Homo sapiens: one gene and its partners. The protein of the gene in region 2 interacts with the protein of the main gene of each other region in a biochemical or structural test. Each region holds a gene or a part of one and is shown on either strand. Other genes may lie near its edges.

Region 1 (7,481 bases), on a different chromosome or scaffold from region 2:
GTGAATGGATGTGTAAAGTGGTTCCGTTTCAGCCCTGCCTGGGTCCATGATTTCTGTTCTGGGCCCCCTCCTGCAGCATCACCAGCAGCAGCAGCAGCAGATCAAACGGTCAGCCCGCATGTGTGGTGAGTGTGAGGCATGTCGGCGCACTGAGGACTGTGGTCACTGTGATTTCTGTCGGGACATGAAGAAGTTCGGGGGCCCCAACAAGATCCGGCAGAAGTGCCGGCTGCGCCAGTGCCAGCTGCGGGCCCGGGTGAGCATGGACAGAGCTGGGTAGGGTCAGGTGTGGGAGAGCTGGTGGGTCCATGCATGGTTAGTTAAGTCTAGGCATGGATAAACCAGGTGGGATTGGGCCTGACTGTATCCTGACAGGTGGGAAGGGGCCTGTCATGTCCAGATGAATGGGGCATGACCTGGTATGCTGGGCTGGCAGAACACCCCCACCAACCCTGGGTAGACAGAGTGGGGCCAGGTGTTTTCAGGTGGTCATGCATGTTGGTACAGATCAGGCAGGGCTGAGCATTCCTGGCAATGAGGGGTAGCGGGGAGGTGTGTCTGGGGAGGTAAGGCCAGGCCAGGTGGGTAGGGCTAGGGCAAGGCCGCCCTCCATCCACCTGGGGCTGACCTGGGCCTTCCTCCTGCCGGCACAGGAATCGTACAAGTACTTCCCTTCCTCGGTGAGTCCAGCCCCCCAGGGTGGGGTGGGGCATGCGGGCAGGGCGGTCAGGGCCAGTCCTGAGATTCTGCCCTGCAGCTCTCACCAGTGACGCCCTCAGAGTCCCTGCCAAGGCCCCGCCGGCCACTGCCCACCCAACAGCAGCCACAGCCATCACAGAAGTTAGGGCGCATCCGTGAAGATGAGGGGGCAGTGGCGTCATCAACAGTCAAGGAGCCTCCTGAGGCTACAGCCACACCTGAGCCACTCTCAGATGAGGACCTACCTCTGGATCCTGACCTGTATCAGGACTTCTGTGCAGGGGCCTTTGATGACCATGGCCTGGTGAGCAGACAGGAGCATCCACTGGTGGAAGGGTGGAGGTTACAGAAGCAGAGAGTATCCCTAATGAGGAGACAGAGGGTATGGAAGGCTGATATGGGACATGAGTAGGTGGTGGGGTTGTCACGAGCGGGGCAGGTGGGTCAGTGCATGCCCTGCTTGCAGCCCTGGATGAGCGACACAGAAGAGTCCCCATTCCTGGACCCCGCGCTGCGGAAGAGGGCAGTGAAAGTGAAGCATGTGAAGCGTCGGGAGAAGAAGTCTGAGAAGAAGGTGATGGAGAGGGTAAAGTGGATGTGGAAAGGCAGAGGGTGGGGTTGAGGGAGAGGCAGAGGTCAGAGGCTGAATGGGGCAAGAGCCAGAAAGGGCTAGAATGGAGCAAGGGTCTGGGGTCTGGGGCTGACTTTGACTCCACCCTGACCTGACTTGTCTTGCTCAACAGAAGGAGGAGCGATACAAGCGGCATCGGCAGAAGCAGAAGCACAAGGATAAATGGAAACACCCAGAGAGGGCTGATGCCAAGGACCCTGCGTCACTGCCCCAGTGCCTGGGGCCCGGCTGTGTGCGCCCCGCCCAGCCCAGCTCCAAGTATTGCTCAGATGACTGTGGCATGAAGCTGGCAGCCAAGTGAGTCATTCCTGAGAGGTTCAAGGGAGTCAGGAAGTGCATGGTAGGGCCTGACCACAGCCTTCTGTATGTCTACCAGTCAATCAGCTATCCACCAGTCACCAAACAGCCACTACCCACTCACCCATCCACCTACCCACCCACCTGCCCGTGTGTCCATCCAGCCACCATTCCGCCAGTCACCTATTTACTTCTCCTTTTGCCATTTGCGTCTATTTTGCCATTCTCACTTACTGATCACCTCACTCATTCTGTTGCTTGCTACCTTCCCTGCAGCCGCATCTACGAGATCCTCCCCCAGCGCATCCAGCAGTGGCAGCAGAGCCCTTGCATTGCTGAAGAGCACGGCAAGAAGCTGCTCGAACGCATTCGCCGAGAGCAGCAGAGTGCCCGCACTCGCCTTCAGGAAATGGAACGCCGATTCCATGAGCTTGAGGCCATCATTCTACGTGCCAAGCAGCAGGCTGTGCGCGAGGATGAGGAGGTGAGCAAGCAGGGGCGCAGCAGAGCAGGGCCTGTACTTTGTCCTTCCCAGCCTTATTGTTCCTTCCATTCCATGCAGAGCAACGAGGGTGACAGTGATGACACAGACCTGCAGATCTTCTGTGTTTCCTGTGGGCACCCCATCAACCCACGTGTTGCCTTGCGCCACATGGAGCGCTGCTACGCCAAGGTTGGGGTGTCAGACTGAGGGGGCGGACCATGTGGGAACATCAGTGGGCCAGTGGGGGACAGATTTGTTGTCTGGGTGGTGTCTTGGGAGGGCATGCAGCGCACATCCACAGTTCCCTCCATTTGTGCTCATCCCTCCAGTATGAGAGCCAGACGTCCTTTGGGTCCATGTACCCCACACGCATTGAAGGGTAAGTGAGGGTGCCACGCAGTGAGAGGTGGGGGGTTAAGGCGGGGGTCAGAAGTGGGATGTGTGTGGAGCTGGGGCAGGATACGGGCAACCAGCCAGGACAGATGGACCTCCCTTCCCTCCCTCTACTGCCCTCTCTACTCCAAATCCCCAGGGCCACACGACTCTTCTGTGATGTGTATAATCCTCAGAGCAAAACATACTGTAAGCGGCTCCAGGTGCTGTGCCCCGAGCACTCACGGGACCCCAAAGTAAGGTTTTCCCTCAGCTCCTCCCATTTTGCCCCTCCTCCCTGCCTCGCTGTCCCACATTCATCCCTTCCTTCCTCACCTCACTTTTCCTTCACTTTTTCCTCTCAGCTTCCCTGCTGCTTCACCCTCCATTCCTCCTTTTCCATGCCTCCTCACCGTTCCCTGAACCCTCCATTCTTTTCCTTCTCCCTCCTTGAGCCCCCATTCCTATTCTCCCTTATCACCGCTATTCATCCCCCCAACCTGGCCTCCTTGCAGGTGCCAGCTGACGAGGTATGCGGGTGCCCCCTTGTACGTGATGTCTTTGAGCTCACGGGTGACTTCTGCCGCCTGCCCAAGCGCCAGTGCAATCGCCATTACTGCTGGGAGAAGCTGCGGCGTGCGGAAGTGGACTTGGAGCGCGTGCGTGTGGTAGGTTTCTGTGCGGTTTTGGTGCTGCATGTGGTAGGTTTCCATGTCGGACGTGGCCGGGGCAGGCGGGGCTGCAGGTGTTCCTGCTTAGGACTCCTGCCGCTCCCTTGGCAGTGGTACAAGCTGGACGAGCTGTTTGAGCAGGAGCGCAATGTGCGCACAGCCATGACAAACCGCGCGGGATTGCTGGCCCTGATGCTGCACCAGACGATCCAGCACGATCCCCTCACTACCGACCTGCGCTCCAGTGCCGACCGCTGAGCCTCCTGGCCCGGACCCCTTACACCCTGCATTCCAGATGGGGGAGCCGCCCGGTGCCCGTGTGTCCGTTCCTCCACTCATCTGTTTCTCCGGTTCTCCCTGTGCCCATCCACCGGTTGACCGCCCATCTGCCTTTATCAGAGGGACTGTCCCCGTCGACATGTTCAGTGCCTGGTGGGGCTGCGGAGTCCACTCATCCTTGCCTCCTCTCCCTGGGTTTTGTTAATAAAATTTTGAAGAAACCAAGGAAGCTGTCTCCACATTGCTGCGGTTGCAACTGTTCCAGACTTCTGGATAAGATGGGGGGCGCCTGCACCCCGCGAGAGCCCAGGGACCCACATTCCCAGCCTCCCACGGGCAGAGGGTCTACGCAGCGCGCCTTCAGTGTGGTGACACCGCCCATGCATGCTCCTGTCTCCCACCCAGAGCTGTCGTCCGCTGTGGACGCCAGGCCCCGCCTTTTCCCCACAAGCCCCACGTTGGGGATCCGCCTCCTGCAGGGGCGCGCCCTCCCGCGTGCCTCAGTTTACCTGCGGTGTGGCACCGCCCCTTTCCCCGCCCCGCGCGCTCCCACAGCTGTTCGGCGGGGAGGAGGGAGCGGGACACGACCCCCCCTGGGGTTGATGTTCGGAGGGACCCACGAACACAGGATAGACCCCAGCGAGAGGTGGGAGAGGAGAGCGCCGGCAGGGCCAGGGAGTGCGCAGGCGCGAAGCAGCTTCCTTGCCGCGTTCGGTATCGGCTGTGGAGACCGCGGGAGGGAAGGGAGGGCGCAGGCGCAAGCCCTCCCCGACCGCTTCCCTTCAGGTTGAGGCTGGAAAGCGCATGCGCCAGCTAGATGGGCAGCGAGGAGAGCCGCAACTGCCAGTCCCTCGAAGGGGTTAGCTGTCGTTGAACGTCAGCACGCAGATGCAACTGGCTCTCGGCAGGGGGGCGCGCGCACCGCTGCGGAGCGCCGGCCCGTAGGCGCGGGAGCCTCCCTATTAAGGGCACGCGACATCGAGGCAATAGTGCGCAGGTGCTTAGCCAGAGGCGGAGCCCGAGAGGCAGGCAGCGGACTTCCGGTTCCGGGAGCAACGAACAGCCGCGGAGGCGACAGCTACCGCTTCAGAGGAGGCGGCCGCGGAGGAGGAGGAAGGGGAGGAGGGCGAGGCGGGAGGTGCAGGAGGGACCCTCGCCATGGGTCCACGGGCCTAGAGTGGCGGAAGATACCGGCCTGGTGCCAAACTGGTGAGACAGCCTTGGGGCTGGACGTGGAGAGCGCTCAGGCGGAGGATGGGAAGGAATTGTGGCTCAGAACGCTGACGGGGAGGAATGAAGGGCCCTCAGGCCGATAAGGGGGAGGAATGGCGGCGTCGGAATACTGACGAGGAGAAATGGGGGGATTTAGGCTGAGGACGGGAAGGAATGCAGCTCTGAACTCTGACAGGTAGGAGTGTCGGGATCCTGGGACGAGGACGGAGAGGAATGGTGGAGATCAGAACGCTAAAGGGAGACATCGGGGCATCTGAAGTTGAGAGAGAAATGGGGGTTCAGAACTCTGAGAGGGAGAAATGAGGGGCCCTCAGGCTGATGACAGGAGAAATAGAGGCTTTGGAATGCTGAAAGGGAGGAATAGGAGGCCCCATATAGAGGACGAGGAGCAGTAGGGGATCAGAATGGTGACAGTTAGGGATGGCATGATCCCGGGACAAGAACAGAGAGAATGGAGGAGGGTTCGGAATGCTGAGGGGAGAAATTAGGGTCTCTCTGGATGATAAGGGAGGAATGGAGGATGAGAACAGTAAGGAGGAGAAGTGGGGAACTTTTTGGCTGTAGAGGAAGGTTTGGGAGCTCAGACTAGGGAGAAATTGTGGGTGAGAACATTGAAGGAGAAGAAAAATAAGGGGGGAGGTCTTGGGCTGAGGAAGGGGAGGCATGGGAGGCTTCCAGTGTGAGGAATGGAAAAGATGAGGGGCTGTTCAGGCTATGGGTTGGAGCAGTTGTGTCTCGCAGAGGAAGTCGAGGTTGTAACACTGAGGTAGCAGGATAAGAGGACATCAGGCAGAGAAGGAATGGAGTGGTTAAAACACTGAAGGAGGGAAATTAGGAACTCCTGGGTCAAGGAAGGGGGGAATGAGAGACTACTGAAGTCAAGTAGTGAGGGCAAGAGAAATGGGGCCCTTTGGGGCTGAGGATGGGGACTATGGGGGTCTTGGGGTGATAAAATAGAGGGATAGAGGCCCTTAGGTCAGTGACAGGGAGGAATGAGGGGGAAGGATGAAAAGTTTCTGGATTGGCAGTGAGGAGAAATGATGGGTTGTCAGTCTGAGGATAGAGAGGAGTAGGGGATTAGGACACTGAGAATAAGAAACAGGGATCCTTGGGTTGAGGAATGATGATATCCTAGGCCCAGAATAGGAAAGAATGGGGTGAGAATATGAGGGGTTTCTTTTCCATATATGGGCTGGTTGCCTGTGGCAGGTCCTAGGGCTTGGGCAAGCACTAATGGATACCAGTGATTTGTGTGGCCTGGGGCACAGTGTTGTCCCTTCCTAGAGCCTCAGTTTCCCTCATCCCTTCCACCCCCTTTCAGGCTACTGCTGCTTCCTGTGGCCTCCATGGCTGAGGACTGGCTGGACTGCCCGGCCCTGGGCCCTGGCTGGAAGCGCCGCGAAGTCTTTCGCAAGTCAGGGGCCACCTGTGGACGCTCAGACACCTATTACCAGAGGTACTGGGTGGGTAGTGGGCAGAGTCAGGAGTGGGGTAGAGCCTGATTCTGGTAAAATCAAATGGTGTGGTTAAATTTATGGATGAAGTTTAAATTATGCACATACAGTTAATCCTTATTAGCGGATTTTATGTTTGAATTTCACCTACTTAATAAAATTTATTTGTAACTTAAAAGTCACTACTCACAGTGCATTTGTGATTATTCAAGAATACGTACAGAGCAGTGAAAAACTGTCACTCAATGCATGTATTTCTAGCTGAGGCTGAAGGAGCCCTTTTCAGCTTTAATACTGTAAACAGGTGTCCTTTTCGTGGTCTGTTTAGTGTCACATTTTTCTAATTTTTGTACTTTTTGGTGATTTTGCTTTTTAAAATGGTCCCCAAGCATAGTGCTGAGGTGCTGTTTAGTGTTCTGTGAGAAGACTATGTCGTGCTTTATGGAGAAAATACAAGGCAGATAAACTTTGCTGGTTATCTGAGTTACAATGCTGTTGGCTGTAAGTTCAATGTTATGCATCAGAATTATGGTACAACCAGAAAAAGAAGGAAATTTGCCAATATGTGCACAAAGCTGCTTCAGAAAGTACAGAAAGCATTTATAGTCTTGAAGCTATGTAAGAGATGAGAAAGCAGCTACATTGGTGGGTTCATGAAATGACGATCAATAAAGCATAGTTGACAGCATTGTTGAGGAAAGCCAAAGTCATGTTACCCTGGGTTAGGAAAATATTAAGGTTATATCAGCTAGTGCTGGCTGACTTGCACATTTCAAAAGGCGACATGGCATGAAACATGTTAAACCTGCATGCAATGCAGGTTCTGCTGATCAGGAGTCTTCCGAAGAATTTTAAAAATACCTGTTAAGTGTTGTACAGGAAAGGGGTTGTGTGGAAGAGTGGTTTTCAATGTCAATGAGATTGGCTTGTTAAACAAGAATATTGGCAAAAAACCTTACATAACACATACGGCCTCCAAGTCCCCTGGTTTGAGTCATTCAAAGACCATGCAAATAATCATTTGTAAAAAAAAATATGTATTAAGTAATGTGTGTTTAAACAGAAACACACACAAAACAAAAGTTCAGATGCTCTCAGGAACCTAACCCTGTATTTCTTCTAGGAGCAATGGTTTTGTATTCAATGTTCATGATAGCTTTGTAGAACGTAACTACCATAACTAATGAGAGTCAACATAGATGTTTATAAGCATTTACATGTGTTTAAGAAACATTATTAAGTTTCTATATTCTTTCTGATTTTTTAAATCTAAGTTGCTATCTTTCCAGGTAAATATCAAATTACAAATTACTTTTTGTTTATATTTAGTTATAATTTATTCACATATTTATGTACTTGTA
Region 2 (7,022 bases):
CTGTCGTCCCAGCTACTCAGGAGGCGAGGTGGGAGGATCGCTTGAGCCAGGAAGCGGAGGTTGCAGTGAGCCAAGAATGTGCCACTGCACTCCAGCCTGGGCAATACAGCGAGACCATCTCGGAAAAAAAAAGAAAAAAAATAAGTAACACTCATAGTCAATAATTATTATGCCTCATACCAATCAATGAGAAATCTCTAATCAATAAAGACATATGATGTGAACTTATTCAGATATATTGCCTGAGATATTTAAAAACTTGAAAAGACATCCCCTGAGAAGGTAAAATTTGACTTCAATCTCATATAAAGCAAACAAGATGAGTCACCATACTTTTATATGACTACAGATGGCTCGACTTAACAATTTTCCAACTTCATGGTGGTAAGAAAACAATAGGTATTCAGTAGAAATTACTTCGAGTACCTACACAACCATTCTGTTGGTAACAAAACCATTCTGTTTTTCACTTCAGTACGATATTCAATAAATTACATGAGCTATTCAATACTTAATTATAAAACAGGACTTGTGTTAGATGTTATGTCAGCTAATGTAAGTGTTTTAGACACATTTAAGGTAGGTTAAGCTAACCTATCATGTTTGGTAGGTTAAGTGTATTAAGTGCATTTCTGACTTTGGATATTTTCAATTTATGATGGATTTATTGGGACATAACCAGAGGAGTATCTGTAGTCCAAATGAATGCAAAGCTCTCTGTTCTATACATGTTGGCCTTTGAAATAATTAAAAATATTAAAAATATTTAAAAGCACTATATTAAAAATGTATTTTCTATTTGAAAATTTACCTGAGTCAAGGAAGATATAAATAGCTAAACTAGTAACAAATATAAATCTATTAATAGATTTGTTTATACTTAAGTCTGAATCAAATCAAATACTGTATCCTAAAGAACTATTATTTTATTTACCATGAAAGTATTCTGTGTTTTTGCCATTATGTTCTAACAAAGCCAATTTAAACAATAACTATAAACAATATTATAAACTATTTTGAATGATACAGGTATTATTCTAAACAAAACAATATTAAAGGATTGAGAGGAAATATCAAATAATTATCTTGTCCCTGAATGGACAAGATATTTTAATCCAAAATTATTTTTCCTTTTATTTTCATAATTATGTAAATTTCACACCTCATCAACACCAATATTGGCACACTAAGCAATAAGGTATTTCAAACAAAGTACCCCTTAACACATGTGCTCAACATCCTATCAAGATTAAAATTTTCTTCCATTATTTATATGGATCAATAATACATGCGGCTGCCAGGTTACGTGAGCTAGTGAGGTTCTCCTCTCCTTCAAAATGAAACCAGAAATACACACACACACACACACACACACACACACACACACCCGTAAATGACTAACAAAAAGAATACCACAGAAGTATTTTAAAAGTTTATCTGTAAAGTAAGCAAGTAATTATAATTTCTATGGATTCTACATTAAACATAACATTTTTGTAATTAGGGAAAATTTTTTTTAAATGGAGTATATTAAATTTCAAAGACATCAATTAACCTCAGAGATGACAGGATAGGGCAATAAGAGGAAGAATACCATTCTTCCCTACTCTATTTCCCATCCCTATCATAGCCACTGTTTGTAATTACAGAGTGTGGTATGGCTCAGTTGTGTTTGCAAGGTAAAATGGTTAAAATCCACTGAATTAAAATGAAATAAAAGATTCCATCTACTGCATTAAAACGAGTTGGAGAGCTAATAAATGTTTACTGAACTACCATGTAACAGGTTCATATCTAGCTATTATAGGGATTTATAGATAAATGCCTCAGAAGCCTTATCATTTTGAGGAACAAAACAAAAACATTTAATAAAGGGTAAATTAAATGTTAGGACAGCCTGGGCAACATAATGAGACCTCAACTCTACAAAACATAAAAACAAAAATCAGCCAGGTGTGGTGGTGCATGCCTGTGGTCTCAACTACTTGGGAGGCTGAGTTGGGAAAATTGCATGAGCCAGGGAGGTTAAGGCCACAGCAAACCAAGATCTCGCCGCCACATTCCAGCCTGGATGACAGAGCGAAACCCTGTCTCAAAAAATAATAATAATTATTATTATTATTAAATACAATTTAAGTTGGGTGTGGTGGCTGACGCCTGTAATCCTAGCACTTTGGGAGGCCAAGGTGGGAAGATCACTTGAGTCCAGGAGTTCGAGACCAGCCTGGCTGACATGATGAGACCCTGACTCTACTAAAAATACTAAAATTAGCCAGTCATGGTGGCACGTGTCTGTAGTCTGAGCTACTGGGGAGGCTGAGGTGGCAGAACTGCTTCAGCCGGAAAGACAGAGGTTGCAGTGAGCTGAGATTGTGCCAGTGCACTCCAGCCTGGGCAACAGAGCAAGACCCTGTCTCAAATAATAAAATAAAATAAAATTTAAAAAATAAATGTTATGAGGCCGGGTGCAGTGGCTCACACCTGTAATCCCAGCACTTTGGGAGGCCGAGGTGGGCGGATCAACTGAGGTCAGGAGCTCAAGACCACCCTGGCCAACATGGTGAAACCCTATCTCTACTAAAAATACAAAATTAGTCGGGCATGGTGGCACGTGCCTGTAAGTCTCAGCCACTTGGGAGGATGAAGCATGAAAATCACTTGAACCCAGTGGGGCGGAGGTTGCAGTGAGCCTAGATTGTGCCACTGCACTCCAGCCTGGGCTACAGAATGGGGCTCTGTCTCAAAAAAATAAAAATAAAAAATAAATGTTATGAGAGCATGCAGGGAAAGTGAAATTGATTCTGGCTGGGGAAGAAATGTACAGATGAAAGGAGGACAGCCTAGAAAGATAAATGAAAAAGGTTAAAGAAAAAAAGCATTTGAAATAAGCCTCATAGAAACAAACAGAATTGAGATAATGAGAGGCCAAAGTAAACAATAAATTAAACATCTTACTTTACAACCACCTTTTACTTCACCTCTCAATTCTTACAGTTAATTATGGACAATGAAAAGAATACTTTAATTATGGCTCCAAAATAAAGGCCTTAAAATTATTTTAAATTGTTTTAAAGAAATAACAAAATGATCGTAAGAATGAATGAGAATTACCTAATAAAATGGGAATTATCAGAACTACTGTCTTCCATTTTAGTTAGAAATACAAAACCATGCATAAAAACATTCAGTTTACATTTGAACATCTTAAAATCTGTTTAAATCTAGTGCTTAAGGCCACAATGGAAGGGAAAAAATGAAAAAGTAAATGTGCCTGTCCCATTCTGGACTCAGTGATAGTTGTGATCAACTAGCCAGCTGGTGTTCGAAACTATGTTCTCAAAAACTTGATTTTAAATGTATGTACGTTTAGAAATGAAGAGAATGCTGGAAGCTATTTAATTTTCCAGAAAACGTGGTTTTCTTAGATTTAAAACAAATGAACTACCGGCAAAAATAATCATTTAGGAAACTAAGTTATGTGACAAATGTAGCCACTTCATTTAATGAAGTACAGAAAAAGTCTTAATAATGTTAAAGAATTTATAAAAACAGAGCCTTAAAATATACTCATCCTACACCCTGAAGACTAATTACATAAAATCTTTTTTCAATAAATATTTTTCACATTCAATAAGCATTGCCCTTCAACAAATATTTATTGAGCCAATAAACTTCCACAAATTACTTTGTGGTGAGATCTTTTTATGCATATTAAATTGGTTTGTTTTTAATTCTATAACGATGAGATACTGAAAATCTATTTACATATCACTAAGCAATTCTATACCACCTATTCATTTGGTGACTTTCTGTGAATACATACCACAAACAGCAGATTTATTCATGAAAACTGGCATTCAAATCATACTTCAAATATAGTCAATTATTGCTATTTGTGACATTTATGTTCATAAAATCACCACAAACACTGAATTTGCGAATATATAATCACTGCTACCAGGGGAAGTATAGGGTTAGGTTCCTGCAAGCCCCTGGTCACAACGTTTTCATCAACTGATCAATACATAACACATATGTACACATACATACATGTACACAGACCATATACAGAGATATGGATAGATACAGATATGGCCTTTAATTTAAAATGGGATATATATATATATATATATATATACACACACATAATCAGACAGACAAGAAAAGATGCATATGATATATTATTAAGGGGAAAAAAGGGAAGTTATACAATACTATGTATATGATTCCTTCTGTAAAAAACAAGAAACAATTTGCTTATACTATATATGCATACACACTAAACAGCTAACAAGGAAGGAACTTTGGCAATTCCATTTTTTACAATGAGCATGTGTCAGTTTTATAAGCATACAGTAGATTCTCAAAAAATGTTTTCTTATTATGGCCACTTAAAAAATAAAATAATGTGATACAAAACTCACGTTGTTTGAAAATGACTCCTATAATCTTCGTGTATTCAGATAATTTCTGCTAAATATAATTAAAAACAAACACTTCATATTTCAAAGATAGAATTTCAGTAAACATTTTCAAAATGTTCTCAAAAATTCGCAAAAAATGTTCTCAACACTTGCCAGTCCCCCAAACTGAAATGTTCAATGATCTGTAACAGGGATTCACAAGCTTTTACTATACGGGTAAATATTTTGTGCTTTACAGGCACACATGGTCTCCGTTACACATTCTTTGTTTTTGTTTCTTTCCTTTTTTGTTAATAACTCTTTGGGAATATTTTTCAGATTTCTTAGCTCAGAACCACATAAAAACAGGCCACAGACTGGACTTAGCTTGCCAGCCGTAGTATGCCAACAAACCAGCATTTAGAAGTCTGATATTTTAAATATATTATACCAAAGGCATCAGAGGTCACAACAGTTGAGTTTTATTCTACGTTAAATAAATAAGGTAGCATTATAGCAATTAAAATTACAAGTTGATTAATATATTGAATTCTATATGCTAGACTACAAATCAAATGATGGAACAACACAGTAAAATAAATTTCAAGCACTTATATTATATAACCGTAATCATGAGTGTGCATGTGCATGTGCATGCCTGTAAAGCATGCACTTCTCCACTTGAAAAAAATCAGCTGAAATTTAACTAGCATACATCAAAGCTCAAGTCTCCTTTTATGATCATTAAAACCATTCACTCATTTAAATAATCAAAACTAGTCAGTGATTTGTTTTAGAGATCATCAACCCCTGAAAATTAAGAACTAATCAGAGACTTGTAGTGATTCATTTGGTTTTAATTTAATTTATGAGATATTATAAAATATTAATCAACCTTCTAAAATACTACTCTTTGGAAGTTTATATTCTTGAAACTTTTTAATATTTACTTTGTCAGTAACCATCACTATACTACCTTTTTTCCTGAAAGACAGCTTTTATATATTTGATTTTATCTAAATTTGAAAGATCTTCATTATTATCCAGCTGTTACTATCAAATGAAAATTTCATTATGAATAATAAACTGGGTCAAAGTAAAAGCCTAAAACGAAAATTCATCCTGCAAAAGTAACCAAATACTATCATACAATAATCTTACCTAGACTGGTGGGTTTTATCAGTTCATCCAGTAAATCATAAAATGGTAATTTTTGAAGTTTTATATCCGGATGGACTGGGTGAAGAGCTGATGTAAGATGTGGGAGTTCCAGTTCATGTTTAGGTCCCAGAAGAGAAACAGGGAGTAATGGCGATGATGCAGGGTGACCATCGTAAGTGAGTTGTGGAATGGTAGATGGAGACAAAGTTGCTGGCATAGGACTTGAATGTACGTTGGGGATGGACAAGTCTGCAGGCGTCATGATTTTCTGTGGGAACCGCCGCCTATAGAGTTCCTTAATTTTCATTTGCACAGCAGGACTACAGCCAGCCTTTAGCAAATGCAGGGCTTTTGTGAGAAGTTCGTGTTTGCGTCCGTGCTTGTTTCTCCCGGCGTAGCCCAACAGTACTTGGAGTTCAGAAACTCTAAGGCTCATAACCATTTGCTTAGAGAAAAAACAAAATGTAAAACATTAGTATTCCAATAATATAATTTACACTATTAAATGACACTTTATTATAACCCCCTTCTTATGGTTTACTTAAGCAAATAAAGGCCAGCTCACTTATAATCCTATTATTTCAAACTTCAAATTTAATCATTTAACGTTAAGTAACCAAAGAAATTTAAAATTAATATTCATAAATTCATTGACTTCTACCCTTGGTTATAAGAAATATAGGATAAAGTATACACCAGGGAAAACCACACCTCACTTTATTCCACTGTTTTGATGAAACTGTCAGGTATTTATCAAGCACTTACTGAGTCTCCAGGAGAATGTCGAGTGCTATGTAGATGGCAAAACGTAATGATGTGCTCTCAAGAATATTTTGTTTTCTTGGGGAAGAATTATAAGTATATATGAAACAACAAACAGTCCATCTCAAACACCAGATGTAGGCAGGATATCAATAGCTATTATCAAGTGTTACTTACATTCTGTACTAACTCTGGAATTTGTAGACTTAAGTTACACCTTTTTTGACCAATTATATATCAGATATTCTATTTGATATTTTCACATGGAATGTCATTATCTTTACAACTCCGCAAGGTATTATCCTGCCTGATTTATACATGAGGAGACAAGTTCAGAAAGGTTAGATAACTTATAAAGCCATAAAGCTACTAAGGAGTAGTCAGGATTCAAACCCAGATATGTCTGATTCTAAAGCCCATGCTCTTTCCACTAAACCATTAGGAAAAAGACAGAGCTGGACTCATATTACTGACTCTCACTTAACTTGCAAGGCCAAGCTAGAAGTCCAGCAACCCAATTCATATGCCATAATGCATGAGGCTGCAGTAATCTATTTAACTTTGTTTACCTATGTTCGCAAACTTATTTAGTCCCCCTTTCTCCTTTTTCCCCACCTACTAATAGGAAATGACCATCTATACCAATCCTCCCATTTTAAAGTGGTGGAAAATGGAATCCAAAGAGAAGAAATCACT
Region 3 (7,022 bases), on a different chromosome or scaffold from region 2:
GTGGGCTATCTCTAGTGGCTCCTGCCCTTTCAGGCCAAAATTCTTAGCCACTCTTGGGGCAAGACTGGATGCTGAAGGAAGAGCTACTGTTCACAGAGGTTACTGAATCTCTGGGAAGTTCCATCAGTAGCCCTTGGAAAATCTTCGATCACCATCACTCCAGAAACAAGAAATGACAACTGAGAGGACTCACATCATTAGTGGGAGAACTGGGAGGCCCATCACCCTGTAGCTCCTTCTTCTTCTTCTTATACTTGCGGGGCTGGGCAGGGTCTTCCCCCATAATTAGTTCTCTGGAAAAAGAGTGGGTCTGAATGAGGCCTCATCCTTGGGAGTCCTACGCTTTCTTTTCTGAACCCATTCCAGACCTACTTCCCACTGTCCATGACCTAGATTTTCCCATATTTCCTTTTTCCCAGGCTCTTTACCCTTGCCCTTTGGATTTCACCTCAAGAGCCAGCCCTCCCCACTCTTGAACATCCTCTTCTCCACTACTCAGCCAGATCTTGTTTCTGTTCCTTACACTACCTCTTTAGCAAGCCTATCTCAAACAACCCAGCTCAGGTGGCCATTGCCCTGAACTCCAGGTTGAATCAGGCCCTACTGTACCCTCATTTTATGCTGGAGTTTTGGCTTTCATGCCCTCATCGTCAGAATCCCTTGAATCCACAAGCTCATTCCCTCACCGGTGTCTCCAGTAGCTTTGCTTATGTTCTTCGTATTCAGGGATATTCATTTCATCTTCCTCCCACGTGGACTGGTCATATGGTAAGTCCCTCCATTTTACTAGATAGTGGTAATTCCCCTTTTTATCCACACTGTGGGGCAGGAGGCCATGGGGAGGAGCAGGAGGAAAATATTGCACAGATCACAAACAGAAAGAAGGCCTGAGAAACGCAATTATCAGCAAACACACAAAATTTGTCACCCAACCGTCAACAGTGAGCTGCTGGAAGGGAGATTGGAATAGTTGACCTAGCAGCCTAACCTTCTCAGGATGGTATCCTAAAAATCAGCTATCACAAAACATTCCTGGAGATCCCTCCTTATCATTTGTTCACCTAATCACTAAGTATTTTCCTCATGGAACTCAGAGTCTCGTGGGGAAGGCAGCATTGAAATAACTAAATACATACCATTAAGTTTAGGCAGTAATAAGTACTATGAAGAAGAAACATTCAAAACACTGGTCTGGATGAATTATGTCTCTCATGTTTTGCTTTCATGCCCTCATCCCCAGACTCATGTGCTATGTCTTATGCCACTGGAGATGACAGGAGGCAAAGGACAAAAGAGGCACTGCCTGGCCGGATTTTCCTCCTGTTTTCTCCCGTTCCCCTGGAGGAAACAAGGCCAGAAAGGCTGGAGCTACAGCAGAGGTTATCAAGGTTAGATCAATTACCTGGTTAATCAGCAAATACTAACATGGGGCCATCACCATGGTAAGAATAATGTCATATACCAGGTCTGACTTCCCAGGGACCGAGGATTCACCTGTGGTTGATGATGCGGTGGACGGTCATCCACTCTGGCTTGATGCCAAAACGATAGTACTTCTCCTCCATCTCAGCATAGTGCGGGTCTTTCACTTTACGCTTGTCGCTCTTCCCATCATCCTCGCCGGAGCCATAGTCCAGGGGTGGGGGCTCATCCATGTCATTCTTCCGCTGGTAGTTTCGATACATAACCAAATGGAAGATTTCCAGCTAGCAGGGCACAGAAAAAAGGGAAAGAGATAGTCCTGACACTCACAGAGGACAACAAGGAACCGGGAAGAGGCCGGCAGGAGGAATGGGACAGGGAAAGGGAGCTATGAAAAAGGATGGATTGGCCCAGGCACGGTGGCTCATGCCTGTAATCCCAGTGCTTTAGGAGGCTCAGGCGGGTGGATCACCTGAGGTCAGGAGTTCAAGACCAGCCTGGCCAACATGGCGAAACCCCGTCTCTACTAAAAATACAGAAATTAGCCAGGTGTGGTGGCGCACGCCTGTAATCCCAGATACTCAGGAGGCTGAGGCAGGAGAATCGCTTGAATGCATGAGGCGGAGGTTGCAGCGAGCCAAGATCACACCACTGCACTCCAGCCGGGGCAATAAGAGAATAACAGGCGCGTCCCAGCACTTTGGGAGGCAGAGGCAGGTGGATCACCTGAGGTTGGGAGTTCGAGACCAGCCTGATCAACATGGAGAAACCCCGTCTCTACTAAAAATACAAAATTAGCCAAGCGTGGTGGCGCATGCCTGTAATCCCAGCTACTTGAGTGGCTGAGGCAGGAGAATCGCTTGAACCCAGGAGGCAGAGGTTGCAGTAAGCCAAGATCGTGCCACTGCACTCCAGCCTAGGCAACAAGAGCGAAACTCCATCTAAAAAAAAAAAAAAATAGAAAAAAAAAGAAAAAGGATGGATTAGAGATAAATGAGTCAAAGCCAAGACGGAGAATAAATAAAATGAAACAGATGCAACAGTTTCAGAAGACAAGGCCTGGGTGGGGCTCTTACAAGCAAGAGATAGGGAATGGGATTAGAAACATTGAGAATTTTTTTTTTTTTTTTTTTTTTTTTGAGATAGAGTGTCGCTCTGTCGCCCAGGCTGAAGTGCAGGGACACGATCTTGGCTCACTGCAAGCTCCGCCTCCCGGGTTCACGCCATTCTCCTGTCTCAGCCTCCTGAGTAGCTGGGACTACAGGTGCCTGCCACCACGCCCAGCTAATTTTTTTGTATTTTTAGTAGAGATGGGGTTTCACCATGTTAGCCAGGATAGTCTCGATCTCCTGACCTCAGGTGATCCGCCCACCTCGGCCTCCCAAAGTACTGGGATTACAGGCGTGAGCCACCACACCCAGCCGAGAATTTTTTTTTAAACAGAGATGGGGTTTCACTATGTTGCCCAGGCTGGTCTCAAGCAATCCTCCTGCCTTGGCCTCCCAAAGTGCTAGGATTATAGGTGTGAGCCACCATGCCCAGCCAGGAATATTATAAAACATGGAAAAAGACAGATAAGGAAGGACATGAAGTTAGGAAAGGCTATGCTATATCTGAGGGAAGGAAGCTAACGGAGACTGAGAGAAAGAGGACTGTAGACCAAAAGAACCACATATGGAAACTAAGCAAGTAGGGTATGAAGGCCACAGGCCTGAAATGAGAGAAAACAAAGAGTATGGGAACCCAACAAACAGAGGAGTAAGAGAGGGAGAGGATGGCAGGAAATGAGGTCATGGGGGAGAGGGAAAGAAAAGGTCCTAGTACCTGAAGCTCCTTGGCCCAGGAGCAGTGCCAGTAGGATAGTCCTACCCACTTGACAAAGAACTCTCGCTCTGATCTGCCTTGAAGAGGACGGGGGGGTGGGACATCTGGATTTCCATCTGCCTGTTGAGGGGCTGGCACTGCTACAGGTGGCTCCCCCCACCGCCAATGTAGGATCTTCTGCACTCGACCCTTCAGCACGGGGCACTTTGGGATGGACACGTACAAGGAGGAGGAAAGAAAGAGGCAGAAAGAACCCATTGTTAGATGAGAAGATAGGGGTCCCACAAGGGTGGGGGAGTGCAGAGAAATGAAAAGCTGGACATGTGGGCCCCAGGGATGGGGGAAGGGATCAGGCCTGACAGTAAATACAGAGGGGAGATGTTTCCACTCACTGTGCATCGGGGACACAGCCATTCACCATTGGGAATGTCAGGCAGGGGAGGGTTTAGACAATGAATGTGGTAGGAGGAGATGCACGCGTCACAGCACAGGAGCTCCCCGCCGTCCTTGCATACGCGGCAGTACTCCATGTGATCATCCTCCTCCTCCTTCTCCCCTTCTTCCTCTCCCTCCTCTTCGTATTCTTCTTCTTCCTCCTTGGCCTCCCACTGGACCCCCTCCTTCTCCTAGGGGGCCAAGGATAGACACACAGACAGATGGAAGAAATTAAGGAATGAAACTGGAAGATACAGGCAAAGACAGGACACCTGAATCCTAGAAGTGCAGAGAAGACTGGTGGGAACTAAGGAAAAGGACACTCCAGTTTCAGAAATGTTGATTGTGGGAGAAAGGAATACATTAGGATCCTAGACACTCGGACATCTGTTACTAAGAAGTCCAGCCATCTGGGGGCAGGAAGAGGGTAAGTGAAACCAAGGGGGAAAGAGATGGGTGGGTTCCTCAGGGCCATCAGATGCTGGCATTAGGTACTCACACAGTGAGGGCAGCTCCATTTGCCCTCTGGAGCCCGGTCAAGCTCAGGATCAAGGCAGACGAGGTGGTAGGCACGAGGGCAGGTGTCACACAGAATAATTTCCCCACCCTGCTGGCACACCTCACAGTAATCCTGGTGATCCGTCTCGTAGCCATCAACCTCCTCCTCCCCGGCCACTGCAGGACAGCCCAGGACTGTCATATACCCCGGTGGAGGGATAAGGAAGCAGGGCAGGGGGAGATGGAGAGAGAGAGGGAGAAGGGTTGAAGAGAGAAGTCAAAATTGAAAATAAGAATGAGAGGACGGCCCACTGACAGGATCACACACAGTCAACACTCCTTACCCTTCTTCTTCTTCCTTCCTGGCCGGCCTCTCTTTAGTTTCTTGGTGCGGACAGGGCCATCAGGCCGGCCTGAGGCACTGTGGACACTGCCACTGTCCAGGTCTGATTCCTCAGCCTCTGGTTCAGGACCTTCGTCGCTCTGAAAAACATACTGCCCATAGCCCCGTGGCCGTCAGTGAGGCAGACTTCATTCTACGCCCTCCCCAGGCCTTTGGCTTCCTGTTCCGCCATCCCTCACGGATCCCTGTCTCTGGATCCTTGGCCCTCACGGATCCCTGTCTCTGGATCCTTGGCCCCCAGGTGTTTAGTAGACAGGGACGGGTCACTCACCGAGCCTCCTTTCTTCCTCTTGCCACCCAGAAGCCCTAGTTTTATTTTGAGTGGTGCCATTTTCTTTCCCCGAAGCTTCTTGCGTCCATCAGGCACTCGGGGGCTCTTACTCCGCCTCTTATGGCCTGGACCTGAATGAGGAGTCGGGGTGAGAAGAGGAAAAAGGAGAGGTCATGACATCCTGGAATTATGGAGGTCACAGGGGCCTCTGGATTCCTCTGTGGGCTGTGGTTTCACTAAGCCCCACTTCCTGGAAAGCATCTCTCCTCCAGCAATCAGGGCTGGGAAGGCGAGAGTTCCAGACTCTAATGTGAAGACATGCAGTTTGGAAGGTGAGATGACAGTTGTTGGAAGAGAGTTCCCTACCTTTGCCCTCTTTGGTTTTGGCTCTTCGGATGGGTGGGGGCTGGATATCAGCAGCAGGGGGTGGTGGAAGGGCGGGGGGTCCGGAGGGTGCTATGGGGGTGGCCGACGAGACAGCAGCTGACACCTGCTCAGCTACAGCTGCTGCTGCTGCTGCCGCTGCCGCCGCCACAGCAGCTGCTGACCCCTTGAAGGGGTTGTTGGCACTGAACTCTCTCCATTTGGCCCCAAGGATGGTCATCATCTTAGACATTGGGATCTTAGGATTCTTCTTAGCAATTAGGGGCCTGTAAATATAGAAGCAGAAAACTCGGACCCTTCACAGATGGTCTGGGAACACTGCCATCTCCCCTCATCAATTAAATCTATGTACATGCTAGGATTCCTGGGTGGTGAGAATATGTCCTATTAGGAAAAACAGCCATTTAAAAAAATAAATAAAAAGAAGTTTAAAAAAAGCGGGGAAAGAACAGGTTTAAAAAAGCATTAAAAAAGAAATACAGGCCAGGCACGGTGGCTCATGCCTGTAATTCCAGGCTGAAGCAGGAGGATTGCTTGAGCCCAGGGCTATGAGATAAGCCTGGGCAACAAAGTGAGATCCTGTCTCTACAAAAAATTAAAATAAAAAAAAATAATTAGCTGGGTGTGGCAGCACCTGAGGCTGAGGCAGGAGGGTGGCTTGAGCCCAGGAGTTGGAGGATATAGTGAGCTATGATCACACCACTGCAGTGCAGCCTGGGTGACAGAATGAGACCCTGTCTTTAAAAAAAGGGAAATAGGCTGGGCGCAGTGGCTCACGCCTGTAATCCCAGTACTTTGGGAGGCCAAGGTGGGAGGATCACGAGGTCAAGAGATGGAGACCATCCTGGCCAACATGGCGAAACCCCGTCTCTACTAAAAATACAAAAATTAGCTGGGTGTAGTGGTGCGCACCTGTAGTCTCAGCTACTCGGGAGGCTGAGGCAGAAAAATTGCTTGAACCTGGGAGGCAGAGGTTGCAGTGAGCCAAGATTGCGCCACTACACTCCAGCCTGGCGACAGAGTGAGATTCCATCTCAAAAAAAAAAAAAAAAAAAGGGGAAATAAAAAACAGCGAAATAAAACTTAAAAGCATAAAAGGTTAAAATAAAATCAACAAAAATGCTTTACTTTTGTATACTACTTTACAGTTCATAAAACCCTTTCACATACATTCCACCTTATCTTGTCCTCACAATAATACTCTTGAGTTGCTATGATTCTCTGCATTTTACTAGTAAGTTCCATGGGCCCTGAAGATGGGCTTCCGTAGGACGGAGTGTGAAAGAGTCAGACCATGCTGGTTCTGCTCTGGGGTGGGGTGCTCAACTCTTGTGCGGACACGGGTGATCCATGGTGCTGAGAAAAGCCCCAAGTTCAGCAGTAAGGTAGGTGAGACAACGTTACTAATGACAGTCACCAGTTACTGAATGCTCCCTAGGAGCCAGGCACTGACGGTACTGTGCTTTCCATTCATTATCCCACCAAACCCACACAGATTCCTATGAGGTATATATTATTATTCCCCGTTTATAGAAGAGGAAATTGAGGATTGAAGAAGTTCAGTCACTTGCCCAAAATGTAACCAGATGTGAACCTCAGCAGCTGCCTCCAGAGCACTGAACTGATATGTTAAAGTGCCTTCTCCCCAAAACAAAATACATCGGCACTATTTTTTCTTTTTTTTTTTTTGAGACGGAGTTTCGCTTGTTGCCCAGGCTAGAGCATAGCAGTGGTGTGATCTCGGCTCACTACAACCTTTGCCTCCCGGGTTCAAGCGATTCTCCT

The links. The genes of interacting proteins can lie anywhere in the genome.
Region 1: the proteins of PIAS1 (region 2) and MBD1 form a complex in vitro, tested with the Homo sapiens proteins (one study listed by BioGRID).
Region 3: of the proteins of PIAS1 (region 2) and CHD3, one has a biochemical effect on the other in vitro, tested with the Homo sapiens proteins (one study listed by BioGRID).

The regions. Positions count from the first base shown.
Region 1 is NC_000018.10:50,278,524-50,286,004, reverse strand, and holds the start of MBD1 (methyl-CpG-binding domain protein 1), read left to right. Parts: upstream 1-4,481; 5' UTR 4,482-4,642; exon of another isoform or gene 4,643-4,788; coding exon of another isoform or gene 4,789-4,841; intron 4,842-5,987; coding exon of another isoform or gene 5,988-6,012; coding exon 6,013-6,122; exon of another isoform or gene 6,123-6,129; intron 6,130-7,481. Other genes in the region: CXXC1 (CXXC-type zinc finger protein 1), read left to right, coding at 77-256, 654-680, 758-1,003, 1,166-1,285, 1,443-1,627, 1,904-2,111, 2,190-2,300, 2,441-2,490 and 3 more. UniProt on the Homo sapiens protein: Transcriptional repressor that binds CpG islands in promoters where the DNA is methylated at position 5 of cytosine within CpG dinucleotides. Binding is abolished by the presence of 7-mG that is produced by DNA damage by methylmethanesulfonate (MMS).
Region 2 is NC_000015.10:68,085,293-68,092,314, reverse strand, and holds part of PIAS1 (E3 SUMO-protein ligase PIAS1), read right to left. Parts: intron 6,010-7,022; coding exon 5,565-6,009; intron 4,471-5,564; exon of another isoform or gene 4,425-4,470; intron 1-4,424. UniProt on the Homo sapiens protein: Functions as an E3-type small ubiquitin-like modifier (SUMO) ligase, stabilizing the interaction between UBE2I and the substrate, and as a SUMO-tethering factor. Catalyzes sumoylation of various proteins, such as CEBPB, MRE11, MTA1, PTK2 and PML.
Region 3 is NC_000017.11:7,891,767-7,898,788, reverse strand, and holds part of CHD3 (chromodomain-helicase-DNA-binding protein 3), read right to left. Parts: intron 5,504-7,022; coding exon 5,220-5,503; intron 4,985-5,219; coding exon 4,854-4,984; intron 4,675-4,853; coding exon 4,524-4,674; intron 4,375-4,523; coding exon 4,181-4,374; intron 3,873-4,180; coding exon 3,639-3,872; intron 3,451-3,638; coding exon 3,247-3,450; intron 1,707-3,246; coding exon 1,495-1,706; intron 819-1,494; coding exon 687-818; intron 294-686; coding exon 194-293; intron 1-193.